Homo sapiens: one gene and its partners. The protein of the gene in region 1 interacts with the protein of each later gene in a biochemical or structural test. Each region holds a gene or a part of one and is shown on either strand. Other genes may lie near its edges. The genes, in order: SH2D2A, ERBB2, KDR and SMAD2.

The links.
Region 2: the proteins of SH2D2A (region 1) and ERBB2 form a complex in vitro, tested with the Homo sapiens proteins (2 studies listed by BioGRID and IntAct, with this or other methods).
Region 3: the proteins of SH2D2A (region 1) and KDR interact in a test that uses a peptide from one of them, tested with the Homo sapiens proteins (one study listed by BioGRID).
Region 4: the proteins of SH2D2A (region 1) and SMAD2 form a complex in vitro, tested with the Homo sapiens proteins (one study listed by BioGRID).

The regions. Positions count from the first base shown.
Region 1 is NC_000001.11:156,813,849-156,821,224, reverse strand, and holds the start of SH2D2A (SH2 domain-containing protein 2A), read left to right. Parts: upstream 1-4,376; 5' UTR 4,377-4,516; coding exon 4,517-4,550; intron 4,551-4,767; exon of another isoform or gene 4,768-5,112; coding exon of another isoform or gene 5,113-5,130; coding exon 5,131-5,219; intron 5,220-5,386; coding exon of another isoform or gene 5,387-5,395; exon of another isoform or gene 5,396-5,475; intron 5,476-6,003; coding exon 6,004-6,188; intron 6,189-6,900; coding exon of another isoform or gene 6,901-6,930; coding exon 6,931-7,020; intron 7,021-7,208; coding exon 7,209-7,376. UniProt on the Homo sapiens protein: Could be a T-cell-specific adapter protein involved in the control of T-cell activation. May play a role in the CD4-p56-LCK-dependent signal transduction pathway. Could also play an important role in normal and pathological angiogenesis.
Region 2 is NC_000017.11:39,710,049-39,717,097, reverse strand, and holds part of ERBB2 (receptor tyrosine-protein kinase erbB-2 isoform a precursor), read right to left. Parts: intron 7,013-7,049; coding exon 6,897-7,012; intron 6,759-6,896; coding exon 6,617-6,758; intron 5,171-6,616; coding exon 5,051-5,170; intron 4,777-5,050; coding exon 4,650-4,776; intron 3,946-4,649; coding exon of another isoform or gene 3,829-3,945; intron 1,813-3,828; coding exon 1,739-1,812; intron 1,653-1,738; coding exon 1,562-1,652; intron 1,380-1,561; coding exon of another isoform or gene 1,359-1,379; coding exon 1,159-1,358; intron 828-1,158; coding exon of another isoform or gene 798-827; coding exon 665-797; intron 584-664; coding exon 493-583; intron 32-492; coding exon of another isoform or gene 1-31. UniProt on the Homo sapiens protein: Protein tyrosine kinase that is part of several cell surface receptor complexes, but that apparently needs a coreceptor for ligand binding. Essential component of a neuregulin-receptor complex, although neuregulins do not interact with it alone.
Region 3 is NC_000004.12:55,077,980-55,080,643, forward strand, and holds the end of KDR (vascular endothelial growth factor receptor 2 precursor), read right to left. Parts: intron 2,185-2,664; coding exon 1,962-2,184; 3' UTR 502-1,961; downstream 1-501. UniProt on the Homo sapiens protein: Tyrosine-protein kinase that acts as a cell-surface receptor for VEGFA, VEGFC and VEGFD. Plays an essential role in the regulation of angiogenesis, vascular development, vascular permeability, and embryonic hematopoiesis.
Region 4 is NC_000018.10:47,808,650-47,815,698, reverse strand, and holds the end of SMAD2 (mothers against decapentaplegic homolog 2), read left to right. Parts: 3' UTR 1-6,742; downstream 6,743-7,049. UniProt on the Homo sapiens protein: Receptor-regulated SMAD (R-SMAD) that is an intracellular signal transducer and transcriptional modulator activated by TGF-beta (transforming growth factor) and activin type 1 receptor kinases.

The DNA of each region.
Region 1 (7,376 bases):
CTAGATCTGATACATTCAGTAAAGTCTTAGGATACAAAATCCGTGTACACAAGTCAGTAATGCTGCTGTACACCAACAACGACCAACCTAAGAATCAAATCAATAACTCAATCCCTTTTACAACAGCTGCAAAAACAAACAAACAAACAAACAAAAAACTTAGGAATATATTTAACCAAGAAGGTTAAAGATCTCTACCAGGAAAACTACAAGGAACTCTACAAAGAAAACTCTATAAGGAACTCTACAAAGAAAACACTGCTGAAAGAAATCAGAGATGACACAAACAAATGGAAACACAGTCCATCCTCATGGATGGTAAGAATCAATATTGTGAAAATGACCATACTGCCCAAAGCAATCTACAGATTCAATGCAATTTCCAACAAAATACCTTCATCATTCTTCACAGAACTATAAAAAACAATCCTAAAATTCACATGGAACCAAAAAAGAGCCCATATAGCCAAAGCAATACTATGCAAAAAGAACAAATCTGGAGGCATCACATTATCCAACTTCGAATTAAACTACAAGGCTATAGTTATCAAAACTGCATGGTACTGGTATAAAAATAGGCATGTAGACCAATGGAACAGAATAGAGAACCCAGAAATAAAGCCAAATACATACAGCCAATTGATCTTTGACAAAGCATACAAAAACATACATTGGGGGGGCTGGATGTGGTGGCTCACGCCTGTAATCTCAGCACTTTGGGAGGCCAAGGCAGGCAGATGGCTTGAGCCCAGGAGTTCGAGACCAGCCTGGGCAACATGGCAAAACCCCATCTCTACAAAAAGTACAAAAATTAGCCATGTGTGGTGGCGCATGCCTGTAGTCCCAACTACTTGGGAGACTAAGGTGAGAAGATCACTTGAGCCCGGGAGGTTGAGGCTGCAGTGAGCCGAGATCGTGCCACTGCATTACAGCCTTGGTGACAGAGTGAGACCCTGTTTCAAAAAATAAACAAATAAATAGATTGGGGAAGGACACCCTATTCAATAAATGGTGCTGAGTAAACTGGCAAGCCACATGTAGAAGAATGAAACTGGTTCCCCATCTCTCTCCTTATACAAAAATCAACTCAAGATGTATTAAAGACTTAAATCTCAGGGCTGAAACCATAAAAATTCTAGAAGATAACATCCAAAAAACTCTTCTGGACATTGGCTTAGGCAAAGAATTCATGACTAAGACCCCAAAAGCAAATGCAACAAGAACAAAAATAAATAGATGGGGAACTAATTAAACTAAAAAGCTTCTGCATAGCAAAAAAAAGTAATCAGCAGAGTAAACAGACAATCCACAGAGTGGGAGAAAACATTCTCAAGCTGTGCATCCAACAACACCCAGTGCCCAGAATCTCAAGGAACTCAAACAAATCAGGAAGAAAAAAACAAATAGGCCAGGCATGATGGCTCATGCCTGTAATCCCAGCAATTTGGGAGGTCAAAGCGGGTGGATCACCTGAGGTCAGGAGTTCCAGACCAGCCTGACCAACATGGAGAAACCCCATCTCTACTAAAAATACAAAATTAGCCAGGCATGGTGGCGCATGCCTGTAATCCCAGCTACTCAGGAAGCTGAGGCAGGAGAATCTGTTGAACCTGAGAGGCGGAGGTGCAGTGAGCCGAGATTATGCCATTGCACTCCAGCATGGGCAACAAGAGCGAAACTCCATCTAAAAAAATAATAAAAATAAAAATAAAAATAAAAAAATAATAATCCCATCAAAAAGTGAGCAAAGGACATGAATAGACATTTCTCAAAAGAAAGTATACAAACAGCCAACAAACATATGAAAAAATGCTCAACACCACAATCATCAGGGAAATGCAAATTAAAATCACAATGAGATACCACCTTATTTCTGCAAGAATGGCCATAATTAAAAAGTCAAAAAACAATAGATGTGGTGAGGTGCGGTGGCTTATGCCTGTGATCCCAGCACTTTGGGAGCCTGAGGCAGGGGGATCACCTGAGGTCAGGAGTTCGAGACCAGCCTGGCCAACATGGTGAAACCCCATTATTTTCTACTAAAAATACAAAAATTAGCCAGGCATGGTTGGTGCTCACCTGTAGTCCCAGCTACAAGGGAGGTTGAGGCAGGAGAATCACTTGAACCTGGGAGGCAGAGGTTGCAGTGAGCCGAGATAGCGCCATTGCACTCCAGCCTGGGTGACAGAGTGAGACTTCATCTCAAACACGGACACACACACACACACAGACACACAAATAGATGTTGGCATGGATGTGGTGAAAAGGGAACAGTTTTACATTGCTAGTGGGAATGTAAATTAGTAAAACCACTATGAAAAACAGTATGGAGATTCCTTAAAAAAACAAAAGTAGAAATACCATTATTTCCAGCAATCCCACTACTGGGTGTCTATTCAAAGGAAAAGAAGTCATTCTATTAAAAAGACACATGCACACGCATGTTTATAGCAGCACAGTTTGCAATTGCAAAGATATGAAACCAACCTAAGTGCCCATCAACCAATGAGTGGATAAAGAAAATGTGGTATATCTGCATCATGGAATACTACTCAGCCAAAAAAAGAACGAAATAATGTCTTTTGCAGTATCTTGGTTGGAGCTGGAGGCCATTATTCTAAGTGGAGTAACTCAGGAATGGAAAATCAAATATCGTATGTTCTCACTTATTAGTGGGAGCTAAGCTATGAGGACACAAAGGCATGAGAGTGATATAAGGGAATTTGGGGACTTGGGGGGAAGGTTGGGTGAGGAATAAAAGGTTACATATTGGGGACAGTGTACACTGCTTGGGTGCCAGGTGCATTAAAATCTCAGAAATCACCACTAGGTAACTTATCCATGTAGCCAAAACCCAACCGTACCCCAAAAATTATTAAAAATTTAGAGCATGTTTTTAAAAGCAAAAAAACAGTACACAATTTTTTAAAAAACAGTAAGTCTTGGCAAGTCCATCTCCCCCATCTGACATCTTGAAACAAAGTTTTTTTTTTCCTCTCTGGGTTCTCAGTACCAAGAACAGTGCATAGCACATAGTCATGAACCTTTGGCCTAAATCACAGTGAAATTAGTGAAAGGAAGTCTACCTTCTAGTCCCAGCACTCACACCAACTTCTCAGACACTGAAAGACCCTGGCCAAGGCACTCCTCTGAGCTTCTGGTAAATGGGGATAATGTTCCTGTCCCCTTCTTAGTTTGTGAAGATAAATTCAGAGAGAAATGGGATTGGTCCTTTGGTATGGTGGGAAGTCTAAGCACATTGAAAGTTTAAGACATTAACACTGGCCAGTGCAGTGGCTCACGCCTGTAATCCCAACACTTTGGGAGGCCGAGGTGGGTGGATCACTTGACGCCAGGAGTTCAAGACCAGCCTGGCCAACACGGTGAAACCCTGTCTCTACTAAAAATACAAAAATTAGCCAGGCATGGTGGTACAAGCCTGTAATCCCAGCTACTCGGGAGGCTGAGGCACAAGAATCCCTTGAACCTGGGAGGCGGAAGTTGCAGTGAGCTGAGATTGTGCCACTGCAGTCCAGCCTGGGTGACAGAGCTAGACTCTGTCTCAAAAAAAAAAAAAAAAAAGATGTCAACACTGATGTTATTAATGACAACTGCTGATAGTGTTGATACTAATGATGACCTGCTTAGCTGGAGGAATTCTCTTTCCTTCCTCCAATATTGCCTGGTTTTGCCCTAACTCAGCTCCATTATCTGCTGAATGATGGAAGCCAGGCCCCCTCCTCTCTAACCCCTTGTCTTATAGATTTCTTTATTATTATTACTATTATTATTATTATTTTAAAAATAGTGATGGGCTCTCACTATGTTACCCAGGGCTGATCATGAACTCCTGGGCTCAAGCGATTCTCTCGCCTGAGCCTCCCAAAGTACTGGGATTACAAGCATGAGCCACCATGCCCAGACTCATAGATTTCACATGTCCTCAAAAAGTCCTTCCAGAAGTCTGACCCACATCCTTCCTGTTGCAGCCCTGCCCCCTCCCTTCCTCATGTCTCCTCAAAGCATGATCCATAAGCACCTTGTGTGGCTTATCCTTGAGGTTGACATCCCCATTCCCACTGCTCAGAACAGGCCAAGAGGCAGAGTGGGAGATTTTCCAGAGAGAAAGAAATAGAAGCCAAGAGAGATGAGAGAGAGAGAGAGAGAGAGAGAGAGAAAGGGAAGTTCTAGTTTGGGGTGAGGGGGCAGAGAAAGAATCTGGAGGGATGAAGGTCAGGCAGCAGTAAGGGCTTCCTAACACCTAAACACAGAGTGACACAGATACCCCCCACCGCTATACCACCGCTATCTACAGCTGCGTGGCTTCCGGGGGTGGGACAATCGTCTTAAGGCTTTCCATGACGTGAGTCCTCGCCAGAACTAAGGCTGTGGGTAAGGCGACATTTCCTGCCCCCGGGGCCAGGGTGAGAGGAGAGATGATGAGTTGCTGAGTGTGCACACCTTTCCGGAACACATACACACACCCTGCTCTGGGATCCCTTGTGAGGCTGCCCTCATGGAGTTCCCCCTGGCCCAGATATGTCCCCAAGGTAAGTGTGAAGTTGAAGGATATGGGTGGGAGGGGGCACAAAGACCCCCATCCCCCTGCCCTCCCTCCTGGGCTTGAGCTCCCACTTCAGGGATGAGGGGCCCCACCCTAAGCCAGAGCTGGCAAAGCTGATTGGCAGGGTGACCACAACCCTGCCTGGGGCTCCATGCCCACTCATCCCTGAGGATAAAGGTGACAGGGTTTGTTGAGGGCTTCTCAGAGAGGAGAGAGGAGGGAGCAGGAGGATGAAGGGAGAAGGAGGCAGAAGATCCTGGACCAGAAGAAGGGCCTGCCCTGAAGTGATCTGCCTCCCTGACCATCCGAAGGCCAGCCTGACTCCCAGCCTCTCCTTCTAGGCACCTGGTGTCCCTCACAACCTCCTCTGGCAGCATTAGCCCCCCATGCCGCCTTGGCTACTTAACCTCATGCCTGAGAAACTCCCCTGCTGCCCTTCTGCGTTTTTCCTGTCGTTAAGACTGTCCCAGCCCTCCAGATCCCCTGAGCCTGGGAGGAGGGGTGGGAGGCAGAGACAGACATAGTTCCTCTCTGAGAAACCCCGGCAGCCCTCTTTGTGCTCACAGGGAGTCACGAAGCCCCCATCCCAACCTTCAGCACCTTCCAGATCACAGACATGACCCGCAGGAGCTGCCAGAACCTGGGCTACACTGCGGTGAGTGGAAACCTGGGGCGGCAGCGTGGTGCAGCTCCCTCATCTCTCCCACCCTCCCATGGGGAAGGACTTGCAGATGGACAAAGGCCACTCCAAGAGAAGGCAGGAATGATCCGGGTCTGCCAACGGGCTGGGGCACAGAGAGAGAGAACGAAAATGAGGAGTACCTCCTTCATGCGCCGAGTTGCCCACTCACTCCCTTACTGCTCCTAGGCCCTCTGGAAGCTCAGGCTGAGTCCGCAGATGACCAGGGTGCAGTGCATTGAGTCCCAGAAGCAGGCATCTGCACTCTGTGTCAGTGACCATTTGCCCAGTGCATTCCACATTCCCGTCTCAGTCCTTCTCTCCTGCCCAGTCAATAATTTTCCCTGCGAACTAGGTCAGTCCCTCATATTATGAAGTAAGCCCTCCCTCATTCTGGCCTCTAGGGTGACTTCCTGCATCATGTTTCTTCATCCTCCAGGCCAGGGAATGACTCTGTCCATCTGGAAGGCTGTGCTGCCTTTCCCGCCCCTCCTAGAGCACAGTGTGACAGCTCACTGCTGCTGGATTAAAAGCCCTCAGGACCCAGAGGGCAAAGGAAGGAGAGTCTCTGGAAGCCAGAACAGCTGGAGCTGAAGAAGGGATTTAAGTTAGACTTTAGGAAGGACTTTCTGGGCAATTGTACCCTAAAATAGACAGGAGAGGCTGGGTATGAGGAAAAGAAGGTGGCAGGTGGATCAAAGTCAGGAGAAGGCCCACTCATCATGCTGCTTCCCCCTCCTTGAACTCTTCCCTGATCCAGGCATCTCCCCAGGCCCCGGAGGCTGCCTCCAACACAGGGAATGCTGAGAGGGCAGAGGAGGTGCCTGGAGAAGGAAGCCTGTTCCTGCAGGCCGAGACCCGGGCTTGGTTCCAGAAGACCCAGGCCCACTGGCTCCTGCAGCACGGGGCAGCCCCTGCCTGGTTCCATGGCTTCATCACCCGGAGGTGAGTCATGGAGGAGGAAATTGGCCCAGACAGGGGCAGGGCAAGTCCTGGGTCTGGGTCCTGCCACCTGCCAGGAATAGATGAAGGCTCCCACTTCTACCAGTCTGGAGTAGATGGAGGCGCCCACTCCAGGCTCCCACTCCCAGAGTTTTCCTAGCCTTTCACTGAGGCATCTCTCCAGGGGAGATCATTGGAGAGGCTCCAGTCCAGCCCTCTGTGTACCTCAGCTTCCCCTCTCTAGGCCCCATTATCCTCCTGTCCCTAAGGCCTCGAATGCTGGTATTTTCCACCTCTCTCTCCCTCCAGGCTTACTCCATCTTTATCTCCCAGCCCTCTCTTCTTCCACCCTTGCAGAATCTCCCTCCTCCATTTCTCAGCCTCATTTCTCCCTAACTCTTTGTTCACCTCCTCAGTTCAGCTTTGACTTCTGAAATCTGGAAGTCCAACTACTTTCCCATCCCTGTAGCTGCAGTAGCAGCCCCTGCAGGCTGCCCTTTCAGGATGAGGCCAGGGGAGGATGCGGGGGTCTCCTGAATGGGACCCCTGGCCCCTGTCCACGCCTAATCCCTGCAGCGGGAGAGCAGCGCCCACGTGCTCTCTCTCCCCATCTCCGCCCTAGCCTTTCTCTAGCCGCTCCAGCATGCTTGCTTGGGGGTAGGGGTTCCTCGTGAGAGCCGGGGAGACAGAGGCGAGGCTGGAAGTGTCAGAGCAGGGTTCGGCCCCCTCTCTCCGTCACCCACAGGGAGGCAGAGAGGCTGCTGGAGCCCAAGCCTCAGGGGTGCTACTTGGTGCGGTTCAGCGAGAGCGCGGTGACCTTCGTGCTGACTTACAGGTGAGGGGCGAGGCCCCGCGCCGGGCGACACAAGGCGGGGCTCGGGAGGGGCGGGGCTTGGGTCTGATCCCGTGAGGAGCCGGGCTCTTAGCTCATTCCCCGGGCTGCTGAAGGTGGGGATCACGCCTCTCGCTGGTGACCCTGGCCGAGGAGCGGGAGATAGTCTGATCCCTAACGGCGCCCTCCAGGAGCCGGACTTGCTGCCGCCACTTCCTGCTGGCCCAGCTCAGGGACGGGCGCCACGTGGTGCTGGGCGAGGACAGCGCCCACGCGCGGCTGCAGGACCTGCTGCTGCACTACACCGCGCACCCGCTCAGCCCCTACGGGGAGACGCTCACCGAGCCCCTCGCCCGACA
Region 2 (7,049 bases), on another chromosome or scaffold:
TGGGAGGCACCCAGAGAGGAAAACGCATTACCTAAGGTGTAACAGCGAGTAACAACAGTCACTGCTCTGTAGAAAGCCTTTCCCGTGCTTCACTGTGCCAAGCCCTGTTTAATTTCATTCTTGCCACACCCCAGCAAGGTAGGTATTATTACAATACCCATTTTAGGAATAAAAAACCAAGGTTGGAAGCAGGAGCTGGGTCTGAATCCAGGTAGTCTGACGCCTGAGCCCACAGGGCTCACCACCCTAGCACAGCCACAGTCACAGCCACCAACACAGACCTCCTTAGAACCTTTTCATAGTCTGAAGGGCCCCAGTGTCCCCCAGGCCCCTTTTCTGCCACTCTGTTGCTGTTCAGGTCTGAGCGCTGAGCCCTCTCCAGGGATATTTTACCAGATAGCACACCCTACTGCATCTCGCCATCCTGCCAAGTCCCTGGCAATCCCCCTCGCTGCCCCCCTCCACCCAGCTCTGAGCCCGCCAGCAGCTCACCGGTCCAAAACAGGTCACTGAGCCATTCTGGGGCTGACACTCAGGGTGGCACGGCAAACAGTGCCTGGCATTCACATACTCCCTGGGGAGCCTGAGAGAAGGGACAGTGGTGAGGGGGTCTGAGAGGAGCCCCATGCACCCCTCCAGCCACCCTCTCCTCCGCCCCTCATACCCCTGCAGTACTCGGCATTCCTCCACGCACTCCTGGCCCCGAAGGAACTGGCTGCAGTTGACACACTGGGTGGGCCCTGGACCCCAGCAGTGCCCTCGGGCGCACAGCTGGTGGCAGGCCAGGCCCTCGCCCACTGCAGTGAGGAGGAAGGGACCGCAGGGGACTTTTAGGGGAGGCCCCAGGTCCAAGTGAACCAGGGAACTGGCTGTGGGCATGGCTGTGGGCTGGAGGGGTGGGGACAGGTGGGGCCGATGTAGGGAGAGGAAGAGTTCTGAGATTTCAGAAACAGAGGGGGAGGGAAGGATGCCAAGGCAGGTAGGACCCAGCTAGAGAAGCCATGCCAAGAGGCCAAGCCAGCCAGAGCTGTGCTGAGTCAAGAAGGGTGCACAGAGACGGGCAGTCTGCACAAGTCCAAGAACGCTGCTGCCAGGGCCCCCTGGGCACTGCTGTGTGCTGGCAGATGGGGAGTGCGCACACTGGGCTCCCTGTCTTACCACACTCGTCCTCTGGCCGGTTGGCAGTGTGGAGCAGAGCTTGGTGCGGGTTCCGAAAGAGCTGGTCCCAGGGCACCGTGTGCACGAAGCAGAGGTGGGTGTTATGGTGGATGAGGGCCAGTCCACTGCCCAGTTCCCTCAGTGAGCGCAGCCCCAGCCAGCTGATGCCCAGCCCTTGCAGGGTCAGCGAGTAGGCGCCACTATGGGAGAAAGGTGGGCACCTTACCACGGACCCCTTCCCGGTCAGCAAAGGCTATTCTCATCTTCCTCCATCCCCAGCACACTCTGCAGACTTTCATGGAAAGGTTACTGCTACAGGAGTACTCCCTCAGGCCCAAAGCTTCCCACAGGGACTCCTCCCTGGGACTCCTCCCCATCAGGCCCCCTCTTTCTCAGTGCTCACTTGTGCAGAATTCGTCCCCGGATTACTTGCAGGTTCTGGAAGACGCTGAGGTCAGGCAGGCTGTCCGGCCATGCTGAGATGTATAGGTAACCTGCAGGCAGAGGGTGAGATTAAAGGAGTGGGGACAGGACAAGGACTCCCAGCCCCTGCAGAACAGGATGCAGAGACAGAGCCCACCTGTGATCTCTTCCAGAGTCTCAAACACTTGGAGCTGCTCTGGCTGGAGCGGGGCAGTGTTGGAGGCTGGGTCCCTGGAGGGGTCAGGAGAGGAGTCAGCAGGGCCAGGAACAGGGTGGACATCACTCCCAGCACTGGCCATGCCAGCCACTCCCCACCATGAATGCCTTCACTCAAACCCTTTGCCCATCGAGCCCAGCTGTTCCCATCCTGGGCTTCAAAGCCCAGGCCTTAGTTCGGCAACATCTATCAAAACAGTATTTATATCCTTTGATCTAGAAATCTTATTTCTGCCTGGGCTCAGTGGCTCACGCCTGTAATCCCAGCACTTTGGGAGGCCGAGGCGGGCGGATCACGAAGTCAAGAGATGGAGACCATCCTGGCCAACATGGTGAAACCCCATCTCTACTACAAATACAAAAATTAGCTGGGTGTGGTGCCGCGCGCCTATAGTCCCAGTTACTCGAGAGGCTGAGGCAGGAGAATCACTTGAACCCGGGAGGCAGAGGTTGCAGTGAGCCGAGATCACACTACTGCACACCAGCCTGGCGATAAAGCGAGACTCTGTCTCAAAAAAAAAAAAAAAAGAAAAGAAATCTTATTTCTAGGAATGTGGCCTAGGGAGACACTGGCCCATGTTCCCAGAGCCACACACAAAGTGGAACTGTTTGTAAGAGTGAAAATGGAACATGATCTAAATGTCTATTAGTAAATAGGGGAGCTGTTAAATAAAACCCCGAGCCACCCAGCCACATAATAAAAACCAACATTTAGGAGCACCTAGTATCTGCCAGGCACTGTTCTAAGAGCTTTACAAATATTAACTCATTCAAACTTTATAATCATCTGGCCAGGCATGGTGGTATAACCATCTTATGAAGTTGGGACTGTTCTTGCCCCCACTTTACAGATGAAGAAACTGAGGCACAGCACAAGGGTCACATGCCTAGTAAGTGGTAGAGCCGGGTTTCAAACCCAGGCAGTCTGGCTCCCAAGTCTGGGCTCTTAGCTGCCTCTCCTTGCCGCCACCTGCTCTGCAGCTATTGAAAGAACAAGGCAGTTCAATGGGAACTGTCATGACCGGCTCTCAAAGCAAGGTGCAGACAGTGCTCCCTATATGTTCCCATTTACAGAAACCAACCTCCCCACCAAAACGACGAAAACCACACTTCACTGTGTGTGTGTCTACAGATGCATAAACGGTCTAGGTGAACACACACACTGTTAACCATGGCCCCCTCTGGAAAGGGGAGTGGAGGTAAAGGAAGTGTGAAAGGGAATTTTTTTTTTTTTTTTTTTTTTGAGACAGGGTCTCATTCTGTCACCCAGGCTGGAGTACAGTGACATGATTTCAACCCACTGCAACCTCCACCTCCCAGGCTCAGGTGATTCTCCCACCTCAGTCTCCCTAGTAGCTGAGACTACAGGTGCGTACCACCATGCCCGGCTAATTTTTTGTGTTTTTTTGTAGAGATGGGATCTCACTATGTTGCCCACGCTGTTCTTGAATTCCTGGGCTCAAGCAATCTTCCTGCTTCAGCCTCCCAAAGTGCTGGGATTACAGGTGTGCACCACGGCGCCTGACCCTTTTTTTTTTTTTTCTTTTTGAGACAGGGTCTCACTCTGTCGCCCAGGCTGGAGTGCAATAGCGAAATCTCAGCTCACTACAACCTCCACCTCCCGAGTTCATGCAATTCTCCTGCCTCAGCCTCCCAAGTAGCTGGGATGATAGGCGCATGCCAGGAAGCCTGGCTAATTTTTTATATTTTTTAGTAGAGATGGGGTTTCACCATGTTGGCCAGGCTGGTCTTGAACTCCTGACCTCAAGTGATCTGCCTGCCTCGGCCTCCCAAAGTGCTGGGATTACAGGCGTGAGCCACCGTGCCTGGCCCCAATTCATTTCTTATTGAAGTATAACTTATATACAATAAAATGCACCGGGTGTGGTGGCTCATGCCTGTAATCCCAGCACTTTGGGAGGCTGAGGTGGGCGGATCACGACGTCAAGAGATCGAGACCATCCTTGCCAACATGGTGAAACCCCATCTCTATTAAAAATACAAAAATTAGCTGGGCATGGTGGCACACACCTGTAGTCCCAGCTACTCAGGAGACTGAGGCAGGAGAATTGCTTGAATCCAGGAGGCAGAGGTTGCAGTGAGCCAAGATCGTACCACTGCACTCCAGCCTGCTGACAGAGTGAGACTCTATCTCAAAAAATAAAATGAAATAAATAAAATGCACAGACTCTTATCACACAGTTTGATGAGTTTTGACAAATGGATTCGCTCATGTATCCACTACCCCAATCACTATACAGAGCATTTCTATTACCCCAGAAATGTCCTTGTGTGCCTCCCTTTTGAAGCCCCCCACCCTGGGGCAACCACCGTTCTGATCTCTCCCACCACAGAGTGGTTTTTTCGGTTCAGAGCCTCACATAAAGGGGATCAGACAGTATGGAATCTTGTCTCTGGCTTCTTTTGCTCAATGTAATGTTTCTGAGATTCATTTATGTTGTATCGGTAGTTCATTTCCTTTGGTTGCTAAGTAGAACTTCACCAAATGGATACACTGCCACTTGTTTATTCCTTCACCTAGTGATGCACATTTGAGTTATTTCCAATTTGGGGATATTTTGAATAAAGCTGCTATGAACTCAAAGGGAATTTTACTTTATCTAGATGGTCTGACCTCCATACAAGTCCTTGTTCACGGATAGCATGTCATTTACAAAAATAATCACCCCCACCCACCAAAGGCCCTGCTCCTCTGGTCTCCCATCTGCTTTCTTTGCATTCTTGATCCCCCCACTTCTGTCTCCTGCCATCCCCAAGAGATGCTGCCACATCTGGATCCTCAGGACTCTGTCTGCCCTGACACTGTCTCAGGTCATCGTGCCCACTCTTACCCATCAAAGCTCTCCGGCAGAAATGCCAGGCTCCCAAAGATCTTCTTGCAGCCAGCAAACTCCTGGATATTGGCACTGGTAACTGCCCTCACCTCTCGCAAGTGCTCCATGCCCAGACCATAGCACACTGAGGAGGTGGGGGTGGGTGGGGAAGGGGCCGTCTCAGCCTTCATACCGGGACAGGTCAACAGCCACATGAGCATCAGGGTCCGGGCCCCTCCCCACACTGACAGGGGATATAGGGACACTTGTAGGGCTGAGGGGGGCCAGGGGTAGAGAGTAGAAGGCAGAGACTAGGTCCCAAGAGGGTCTGAGGAAGGATAGGACAGGGTGGGCTGGGCCAGGCTGCATGCGCAGAGGGACAGGAACTGCAGCTGGCCTCGGGGGCAGTGAGTGGGTACCTCGGGCACAGGGCTTGCTGCACTTCTCACACCGCTGTGTTCCATCCTCTGCTGTCACCTCTTGGTTGTGCAGGGGGCAGACGAGGGTGCAGGATCCCACGTCCGTAGAAAGGTAGTTGTCTAAGGAGATCAGGAACATGTAGCCACATACCCTGGCCCTTCGTGCACCACCATGAGCAGCATTACCGTGCCCAGGCACAAGAAGAATAATATCAACCAATACTTAAATGCCCTACCACGCATCAGCACCTGACATCCATTTACCCCTCACAACAACCAGACGGGATCAGCACTGTGAGATTCCCATTTTGCAAAAAGGGAGACCAAAGCAGAGAGTTCTGTAAATTATTCAAGGTCATTGTGCTAGTGAGTGGAGGAGCGAGGATTTGAACCCAAATGGTCTGGCTCTACATTTTGTCCTCTCCCTAACACAGTCAGCCAGGATCTGAAGGCCCACTCCTGTTCCTGTGAGAGGAGGAAAGAGGTTCCCCAGGTCTGAGCCCAGTCCATAAACGCCCATCAGTAAATAGGTGATCTGTTAAATAAAACTGAGCTAGGCCAGGCACGATGGCTCATGCCTGTAATCCCAGCACTTTGGGAGACCAAGGCGGGTGGATCACTTGAGGTCAGGAGTTCGAGACCAGCTTGGCCAACATAGTGAAACTCCGTCTCTACTAAAAATACAAAAATTACCCAGCCATGGTGGTGCATGCCTGTAGTTCCACCTACTCAAGAGTCTGAGGCACAAGAATTGCTTGAATGCGGAAGGCAGAGGTTGCAGTGAGCCAAAATTGCACCACTGCACTCCAGCCTGGGCAATGGAGCGAGACTCTGCCAAAAAAAAAAAAGTCCGGGTGCAGTGGCTCACGCCTGTAATCCCAGCACTTTCAGAGGCCGAGGCAGGTGGATCGCCTGAAGTCAGGAGTTCGAGACCAGTCTGGCCAACGTGGTGAAACCCTGTCTCTACTAAAAATACAAAATTTAGCGAGGCATGGTGGTGGGCGCCTGTAATCCCAGCTACTCAGGAGGCTGAGACACGAGAATAGCACGAACCTGGGAGGCGGAGGTTGCAGTGAGCCGAGATCGCGCCACTGCGATAGAGCTAACTAAATTCGGTCTCAAAAACAAAACGAAAGGTAAAACTGACCTCACCAGGCTATAGAATAAAAGCTAACATTTAGGAGCACTTAGTACATACCAGGCACCGTTCTAAGAGCTTTACAAATATTAACTCTTTCAAATGTTATAACCATCTTATGCAGTTGGGACTATTCTTGCCCCCATTTTACTGATGAGGAAACTGAGGCACAGCAAGAGGGTCACGTGCCTACTAATTGATAGAGCTGGGTTTCAAACCCAGGCAGTCTGGCTCCCAAGTCTGGGCTCTTAGCTGCCTCTCCTTACTGCCACCTGCTCCACAGCTGTTGAAAGAACAAGGCAGCTCGGCAGGAACTGTCATGACCAGCTCTCAAAGCAAGATGCAGACAGTGCTCCCCATATGCTCCCATTTACAGAAACAAACCTCCCCACCAAAATGAGAAAACTGTGTTTCTCCCTGGCACTCACAGGGACAGGCAGTCACACAGCTGGCGCCGAATGTATACCGGCCCTCGGGATTGGGCATGGACTCAAACGTGTCTGTGTTGTAGGTGACCAGGGCTGGGCAGTGCAGCTCACAGATGCCACTGTGGTTGAAGTGGAGGCAGGCCTGGGGGGACAGGTGGCTGGCTTTCACTGTGCTGTTTTGCCCTGGTGTGCCAGGGGCAATAGGGCAGTACCAGGCAGGGTGCCCACCCCTTGCATCCTGGGGGGTAGAGCACATTGGGCACAAAGCAGAGGCACATACCAGGCAGTCAGAGTGCTTGGGGCCCGTGCAGCCGGCAGCACACTGCTCATGGCAGCAGTCAGTGGGCAGTGGCCCCTTGCAGCGGGCACAGCCACCGGCACAGACAGTGCGCGTCACTGTTGGGCAAAGGGCAGGATGAGGGCTGAGTGGCGC
Region 3 (2,664 bases), on another chromosome or scaffold:
GGGTGTTGGGGGGTGTATGCGTGGCGTGTGTGTGTGTGTGTGTGTGTGTGTGTGTGTGTGTGTGAATTCTTTGTAATGAAGAAGAAGAGGGAAGAAGCAGTTAAACTTTAAACCAGACATACTTATCCTCAAAATAGTTGTGGTGATATTATACCCTCATACTTTGTACTACAAATACATTTATTGGTTTGTAAAATATATAATCAGTTTATGAAAATATCCCTTATAAGAAGAGTAAGAAAACCAGTAAAAATGTAAAACAACCACATGGAAATTATGTCTGATTCCTTCTTCTCCATTTTATTTTATTTTTACCTTTTTTCTTTGAGATGGAATCTGACCATGTTGGCCAGACTGGTCTTGAACTCCTGGGCTCAAGCGATCCTCCCACCTTGGCCCCCCAAAGTGCTGGGTTTTTAGGTGTCGGCCACTGTGCCCAGCCACCCCCTCTTCCATTTTAGAAATGATGGGTACAGTAATGCAACCTTGCAAAGGGATTCCTTCAAGTTTTTCAATGTTCTTTAATAAAATGACATCAATTGCTGAAAGCATTATGACCTTTGTTATGCTACATAATACTGATACAAAATGTGAATAGTACAAAGTTCATTATATATAAGGCTTTAATATATTACATTTGTTTCTACATAAACAGACTATAAATATATGTGCCATAGCATGTCTTATAGTCATTGTTCCCAGCATTTCACACTATGGTACCAAACAAAAAACACATTTTCTTTTTTGAAAAAAAGGACAGAACAAGGGCAAAAATCAGTAGAAATAGCTCTATATGTTAAAAGTCTAAATAATACAATAGATGTTATAATTTGGGCTATAAAATAATTTTGAAGTCTGGCTAATAATCATTCAGAGAGTGAACAAACCCAATCAGGTTTACTGGAGTAGAGGCCAAATAACTAAAATACTGATGGGTTGCGGGGTGAGAGTGGGTTGGGGACAGGGGGAAGAACAAAAGGGTAAAATCCTTCCTGAAACTTTGACACCACACACAGCTTCACATTGAACCTCCCGCATTCAGTCTCAGACATATCACATCAGGACAGATATGAGGGTATTCATTCCAGAAGAAACCAGAAGCTGGTTTGTGCAGTCAGAACTCTTCAACACGGCAGGGAGCCTTGAGCTGAATGTCCTTTCTTTGTGGTATTCTGAATAAAGGATCAGCCTGGGAGACAAGGAGCCAGAGCTGCATCATTTCCTTCCTGGGGCTTGGCCAGGAGACACGTAACGGTCTGGAAGGAACTCTCATTAGGAGTCAGAAACAGCACAACGAACTCTACTTTAGCCCAACTCGAAGAACACGCAACCTTCTAAAACCAGAAACCCCGTCTGAACCCTTTACATTTCAGAACAGACCCCATGCCCACCTCCACCAGAGCAAACACAATGCATTTGCAGGCTCCAGTACTCTCCAAAGCAAGGTAACGTTAGTCTTCCTTTCTATCAATCCGAATTCCACACTTAAGGCTTGGCTTGGGACCCACGTCCTAAACAAAGCCTCTTGGATAGACTCAGCCCTGCAAATCCTTCCCATCTTCAACACCTCGAACACTTACATTGCCTGGTTTATCTTCTAGTTTTACAGAAGTGTCAGCTCCCCAGGTACTGCTACTTCTTTGAGGATGGGGCCATTTCTTGAACGTCTTTGTTCTAAACCCATGGTGAGACCCGCAGCAGGGGGCATGATAAATGCTTTTTAAATGAATGAAAAAGAGGATCAGGTCAACACTGGGAGAAGACACAGACACATTCTTGGGTCACAAGCCTCTTCCAGGATATGCCTAGAAGACTGGCTCCCTGCAGTCCGAGGTCCTTTTTCTGTTGTCGAAATGAAAATCAAATGCGGCTACTTCCTGCTGGTGGAAAGAACAACACTTGAAAATCTGAGCAGCACCTCTCATGTGATGTCCAGGAGTTGGGGGTGTGGATGCTTCCTTTTAAACAGGAGGAGAGCTCAGTGTGGTCCCCGAGTCAGGCTGGAGAATCTGGGCTGTGCTACCGGTTTGCACTCCAATCTCTATCAGCTTTAAAAGTTCTGCTTCCTCACTGGAGTACACGGTGGTGTCTGTGTCATCGGAGTGATATCCGGACTGGTAGCCGCTTGTCTGGTTTGAGCCTTCAGATGCCACAGACTCCCTGCTTTTGCTGGGCACCATTCCACTGCAGAAGAAATGGCAAACAAAGGAGTTGGCAGAGAGAAGACAATTCTTTTGCTTTTTACCCTCACCCCATTCCCAACTCCATATGGCTGCCATCTCCCTGGAGACCGCAGCCCCGTATCTCTCCCAGTTGTTAATCAGCATAGCAGGTTTACAGGGACAAGGTCTATTTTCAGGTACTCGCATGAATTAGTAGTTGCAGATAAGTCCTCTTACTCAGGTCCAAGTCTTTCAAGCCTCAAATGAGATGAAAGGCAGTTCTCTCGAGTTATGCAAAGGCCCCAACTGATGGAACATGTTTATGGCCTCGCAGATTGACAAATTTGTATACAGTGACAGGCGCCAAAGGGCCACTTGCATGATATTCAAGGAAATTGGGATGTTCTTAAATTTCACTTGTGCTTTTCCTATTGTGGCAATTTGGGAATTACGGGGCATGTGTATGGTTGTAATAAAGCTCTTGAGCAACTTTAAACTTTAA
Region 4 (7,049 bases), on another chromosome or scaffold:
GTTTCACCCCCTCCTTACTAAATCACCCCTCCATTTGCTGCAGTTGCCCTTGCGTGCTGTACTCAGACTTGGAGGAAGTGATGTCTTATTCAAGGCCAGTTTTTGTACTAGTGGTTAAATAAATGGTTTCCAAATTGGAGTCAGAAGGAGAGCTTCTAAAATGTAGGTTCCCTGGCCTCAATTGTGAGATTCTGCTTTAGCAGGTCTGGAATTGGAGCACTGGGATCTGCATTTTCAGAAAACCCAAAATGATTATCAGCCAGGACTTAAACCTCTGCTTTAGACCACATTCCCTGTGGGCTTTCAGATTTTCTATCAATGTTCTTCCCTCTTCCCAGCTCCCACACATTAAAACTCAGATCATGCAGAAAAGAAGTTACAGTTCCTTCATTTCACATCAATTTCTCATGCATCCCATCTGGTTTTGGGAAGGTGTGGGACGAGGTGGATGGCCTTAAACTTGCCAATCAAAGATAACGTTCTCTTTCGATTCAAATAGCCTATCTCAGGCTTAAAACCATCTCTTTGGATAAATGCTCAGCTTTTCAAAGGTTCTTCCTAGCTTCTTCCTCATGATGGCATCTAGTGGGTGAGAACAGTCATCTCCAGGTGACACAGGAAAGAGTTTCTCTAATGTATGTGCTGAGGTCCTTGACGGTCCTGCTGCTGGTGCTCATCCTGCCATCTTTGCTGGATGTCACTGAGTCTACTGGGTAATGTAAGTGGGTCCCTGGCTTTTGTTCACTGCTGTCATGCCCTGCTCCTGACCACAACTCTGTCATTGCCTTTGGTCTCAAGGTCTCTACCTTAATAGCTTCCATGTCCCAACTATGGGACTGTTAATCTGCTGGGCTTTGGAGTGGGTGGGAAGGGATGATGTTGGAACTTTGGGATGTACTGAACATCTTGCTCAAGCTTTGGGAAGCCAACATTTTCTCAGACTGACTAGACACCTCCTTCCACCAATGCTGAGCTAGTGCTCCTGTGCCATACTGGGTAAGCCTCTAAGTCATGAGTAGGACTTTTTTGAGTGGCTTGCAGTCTTCCCCAGGCTATGCCAGGAAAGTAGTTGACTAACCCTGCTGCTCCAAGACTCGCATACCCATCCTGAAGTTTCCGTTTATTTCCCAACAGGGCAATTGCAATCTCAATCAATCTCTCCCTGCCCTGGGAGTCATTCCACTCCTGCCTAATGAAGAGACTCTTCTCACATCGTATTCTCAGTTTCTCTTATCCATGGTTAGGAGTAAAACTCATGTTCAGTTGTCCAAGCTTTGCTTTTAGTATGTGAATGGAGCTCTTAGCATGTAGAACTCCCTTCTCATTCTCAGTAAAGTCTGACTTTGAAGACTACTTATCATCTTCCTAGAGATGCCAAAGAATAATCAAGATAATAAAGGCAGGCTCTGAGATTCACAGCTGAGTAGCAACTGTGCTGTTACTCTAGTACACACCCTCTCCTTTCCTGTGACTGTCAGGCTTCAGGGCTTACCTTTATTGGAAAGACAGCAGGGGGGCATATATGAAGAAAATGGAATCTTTAATATTGTCAAAGTCTTGACCCAATAGAGACATTCTTGCCCCAGACTCTCTTGCTTCAGTGCCTTTGCCTGTTCTGGTCCTAAGTACCTTGAATATCCTTCTCTTGATGCCCTGATATAAAACTCTTTATTCCTCAAAGCCAAGTTCAGGTTATCACCTCCACCACAGACTTTTCTTTCCCTCCCCAAACTTCATTGCCTCTTCTCATCACTCCCTTTGTAATTTGTTTATACTGGTAAGAGAGCATTCATCATAATTAGGCCTATCTATGCCTACCTTTCTTGTTAAATTATGAGCTTTGTTCTGCCTTGGATATCTCTCTGGCTTGGATATCTCTCTGGCCTTTGCTCTGCACTTCCAAATGTATCCATTATTCAAGACCCAGGTTTCCAGCCTGATCAACATAGCAAGATCCCATCTCTCCAAAAAAAAAAAAAAAAAAAAATTGTGGGGCCGGGTACAGTGGCTCATGCCTGTAATCCCAGCACTTTGGGAGGCCGAGGCAGGTGGATCATGAGGTCACGAGTTTGAGACCAGTCTGGCCAACATAGTGAAACCCCATCTGTACTAAAAATGCAGAAAATTAGCCGGGTGTGGTGGTGTGTGCCTGTAATCCCAGCTACTCGGGAGGCTGAGGCAGGAGAATCGCATGAACCCGGGAGGCAGAGGTTGCAGTGAGCCGAGATTGCGCCACTGCACTCCAGCCTGGGTGACATTGCAAGACTCCATCTCAAAAAAAAAAAAAAAAAAAATTAGCTGGGCATGGTGGCAGGCACCTGTAGTCCCAGCTACTTGAGAGGCTGAGGTGGGAGGATTGCTTGAGCCCAGGAAGTCGAGGCTTCATGAGCCATGTTTGTGCTACTGCACTCTAGCCTGGATGACAAAGTGAGATCCTTTTCTAAAAATAAGGACCCAGTTTATTTTATTTAGTTATTTAGTTATTTTTGAGACCAAGTTTCATCACTCAGGCTGGAGTGCAATGGCACAGTCTTGACTCACTGCAACCTCTGCCTCCTGGATTCAAGCAATTCTTCTGCCTCAGCCTCTTGAGTAGCTGGGATTGCAGGTGCCCGCCACCACACCTGGCTAATTTTTGTATTTTTGGTAGAGACAGGGTTTCACTATGTTGGCCAGGCTGGTCTCAAACTCCTGACCTCAGGTGATCCACCTGCCTTGGTCTCCCAAACTGCTGGGATTACAGGTGTGAGTCACCCTGCCTGGCCAGAACCCAGTTTAAATTCCATCCTCTCTGCAGAGTCTTCCTTAACCACCCCTATTGAAAGTTACCCCTGCTTCCTACAAGAAGTGGTACTTGGATGTTCATGAGATACCTGTGCAAGGCTCCTGTGGGGGTCCTGGGGAGACAGTGACATGGACACTCATGAAAGGAACCTTGGAATAGCGAGTGTGTGTGCTATAAAATGTGCTTTAGATTTGATTACCACCACTTAAGTTATGAGCTCTGATATGGTTTGGGTCTCCATCCCCACCCAAATCTCATCTTGAATTGTAATCCCTACATGTTGAGGGAAGGAAGTAATTGTATTATGGGGGTGGTTCTCCCATGCTGTTCTCATGATAGTGAATTCTCACAGGATCTGATGGTTTTATAAATGGTAGTTTTTCCTGTACTTTCACACACTCACACTCTCTTCTGCCACCTTGTGAAGAAGGTGCCTGCTTCCCCTTCTGCCATAATTGTAAGTTTCCTGAGGCCTCCCCAGCTGTATTAGTCTGATCTCACGCGGCTAATAAAGAGATACCGGAGACTGGGTAATTTATAAAAGAGGTTTAATTGACTCACAGTTTTACATGGCTGGGGAGGCCTCACAATTATGGCAGAAGGTGAAGGGGGAGCAAGACACATCTTACATGGCATCAGGCGAGAGAGCTTGTGTAGGGGAACTCCCCTTTATAAAACCATCAGATCTCGTGAGACTTATTCACTATTACAAGAGCAGCACGGGAAAGACCCACCCCCATGATTCAGTTACCTCTCACTGGGTCCCTCACATAATATGGGGAATTATGGGAGCTCCAATTCAAGATGAGATTTGGGTGGGGACACAGCCAAACTATATCACCAGCCATGTGGAACTGTTGAGTCAATTAAACCTCTTTCCTTTATAAATTACCCAGTCTCAGGTATTTCTTTATAGCAGTGTGAGAACAGACTAATACAAGCACCTTGAGGTCAGAGGCTAAAATCACTTTTTCCCAAACATTTCCTTTTTATATATGCTACATCTTTGTGTCTGCTTCAACATTTCCAGCAGTGCTTTATATATGGTAGGCATGCAATAAATGCTTCTTGATCGACTGACAGGTGCTCAGAAGATCTAGGTTGGTTGATTCTCTTGTGATGCCATCTTTTCCTGAGAGCTCATTAATTTTTAAGTTGTTTTCCTTGAAATGCATGGTATGTTTCCTCCACCCTGCTCTTTGCCTTTCATAGGGTTCCATTTTGATCAGCTGCTCTCATTGTCTGTTTTGTGATCAAAGGTTCTGATGAACTTTGGAATATGTGTATGTTTGGAGTGAGGATGGGGTCTGGAGGAGATGCATGGTTGAGGACCAATTCACCCAACCCAGCTTACAGAAGTAAAGCGGCCCCTTAGGAGCACTGAAGCATTGCTGTGGATTTCAGAATTACCTTATTTCTTTTTCTTTTTTTTTTTTTTTTTTTTGAGACGAGGTCTCGCTCTGTCGCCCAGGCTGGAGTGCAGTGGCACAATCTCAGCTCACTGCAAGCTCCGCCTCCTGGGTTCACACCATTCTCCTCCCTCAGCCTCCCCAGCAGCTGGGACTATAGGTGCACGCCGCCACGCCTGGCTAATTTTTGTATTTTTAGTGGAGACAGGGTTTCACCGTGTTAGCCAGGATGGTCTCAATCTCCTGACCTTGTGATCCACCCGCCTCAGCCTCCCAAAGTGCTGGGATTACAGGCGTGAGCCACCGTGCCCAGCCAGCTTCTTTCAAATCAGAGTAGGCCTTCCAGTGTGGCAGGCCATAAGATCTGAAGTTTTCACCCTGTTCCTGGAAGCCAAGTGGACAGCAACTAATTTTTACTTTCTTTATTGCACATTTGGGGCTTGGGGGATAGAGTCAGATGTGTGTCAGTTGAAACTGTAGCTACTGCATTCCACTCCTTGGGGGATCGTAGTGCTCATGCCAACAGAAAACTTCGAGGCTAATAATTACTGTCTTCAGAGTACAAGACAGGCACGGAAGTTGTTTTGGCATAAGAAAACCACGATTTGCATCCCACAGTCTAAGGAAGACGATGCTGAATTCAGAAGATGGTGCAAAAGTGTGACAGTTCAGCTGTGGCGGCTGTTGCTGATGCATGGGACTATTTTATTTACATTTCCTTTCTTCTTTTTTAACAGAGACAGGATCTTGCTGTGTTGCCCAGCCTGGTCTTAAACTCCTGGGCCCAAGTGATCCTCCCACCTCAGCCTCCCAACGTGTTGGGATTACAGGCATGAGCCACCATGCCTGGGCTTTATTTATATTTCCAAGTCAAATGTTAGTTGGTCAATCAGTCTTTTTAAGCACCAATTTTGTGCCTAGCCTTGTGGAAACTGTAGGAAAAAGATACTTTTTATTTGGGAGGACCTTGATTTGCTGTCACAGGTGCCACTAATGCCAATTATAAGGCAGTGTGGAATCAGGTGATTGAAAGCCCAGTCTGTAGCATAAACTGCTGCAGGGTTCCAGTGGGGGCAATTAAGGTGGGCAGGGAGGGTGGATAGCATTTGACTTTGACAGCATAACCTGAGCAGAGGCACAGTGGGGATGGTGAGTGTGCAGTGGGAGGAGGGAGAGAGGTAAGTGGTAGGGAAGAGGTGGGAAGGGGGCAAGGAGAAGGCTCAGGAGGTTTGGGGACAGGGAAATGACTTGGTTGGCGACCTCTTACTTTCTTCTCGTGTGTGCAATTTGGAATTCACTTGGTTCTTAGTATTTCTGGGTCAGATGACTTCTTTGCAGTATGAGAAACCATTTCCCAGGCTGGCTACCTGGGCTGTGGTATCTTCCAGTGCTCCTCTGTGATTGTACTCAGATCAGCTCGTCTAGGCAGGCAGGATGGCAGAAGCCCTCTGACTTCATGTCTGAAAGAGTATGTGTTTCAACTCTGTAATTACAGCATTTAACAGACGATATCAGCCCTCTTTGGGATGGCTTTTGGCAAATGGGCTAGAAGTCTATTGTGCATTTAAATGATACTGCATCTTCTCTTTAAAAGGTTTCTCAGTGAGTCCACCCCACTCTGTATCCAAGTATGTCTCAGGCCATGAGGCAAAAGGAAATGAGTAGTTCTTTTTGGTTGGAGAATTAAAAAGAAATCTCCACCCAAGTAACAGGTACATAGTGGGAAAAAATAACATCTGCCTGAAAGCTTCATCTTCAGGCAAAGAGAGGGTCAGGGGGCGGGAGCTTAGTAATGGGGAAACCTCAGAAGATTTAAAGAGAATTACAGACAGACAAGGCTGAACATTGGCTGTCATCCAACAAAGCTCTTATAAGATGGGAATCACTGCCCGGTTCTTGAGCTCCGACCTGGAGGGAAGAGGAGTCTGGAAGACTTGGCACAGGCCTGAGTGCTTCATTGTCTTTCTGGTTCCAAGTCCTCCTCAGCTCACTAGGAAGGAGGTGGGGTGGGGGCAGGTAGGCCACTCTGCATAAGTGCACACATCTACACTGGCTAGTCTACTTCACAATTCCCCCACAGGTTATCCTTATCTCTACCTGGTTCCAGTTCCAGATTGGAGGGATATAGAATACCATCCCCACCCCTCACCTTGCTTGCTCTGGCCTGGAAAACTGTCATTCCTTTACCACCAGCTGGCATCTGCCATATGCTTCAAGGAACTGAATAAAGAGGAAGGGGAAAGAAGAAACTAGAGAAACTGGAATGCTTCCTATCTGACCCCCAAGTACAGGGACTGCCTCTTTCCGTAACGGCACAGAACGTCTCCATCCCTTTGACCTCCACCTCCCCAGAGATGCCCGAGGAGGACAGCCTTGTTTCTGTGATCTGTTGTTGAGAACTGCTGCTGAGAATTCTTCCTTCAGCACCGCCTTAGGCACCATTGGTTTTTCACTAGGTCCGCTGTAGAAAACAGCCAGGAATTACTTAGTTGACTACCACCTGAGGTGCTGTTTGGTGTTGGTAATAAAGAATAAAGGTGGAAATGAAGCAACGAGACTGCTTTTCTTTGTGGTTCATAAATTAATTCTGATAACAGTTTTTAAAAGAGAAGTCAAATATTTTGAGCAGAGCCAAGCTCACTGACATACCTAGGTGGTCTTAGATGTAGCCAATGCGCCAGGTACCACAGGACGCCTAAATTTGTATCAGTGTATACCATCACTAGTTATGAATAAGAATGCCTTCTTGCCACATATCCTCATTAACTCAGTGTATTATCAAACTTATTTAACTCTTTCAGGCCAGGCATTGTGGCCCATGCCTGTAATCCTAGCACTTTGGGAGGCCAAGGCTG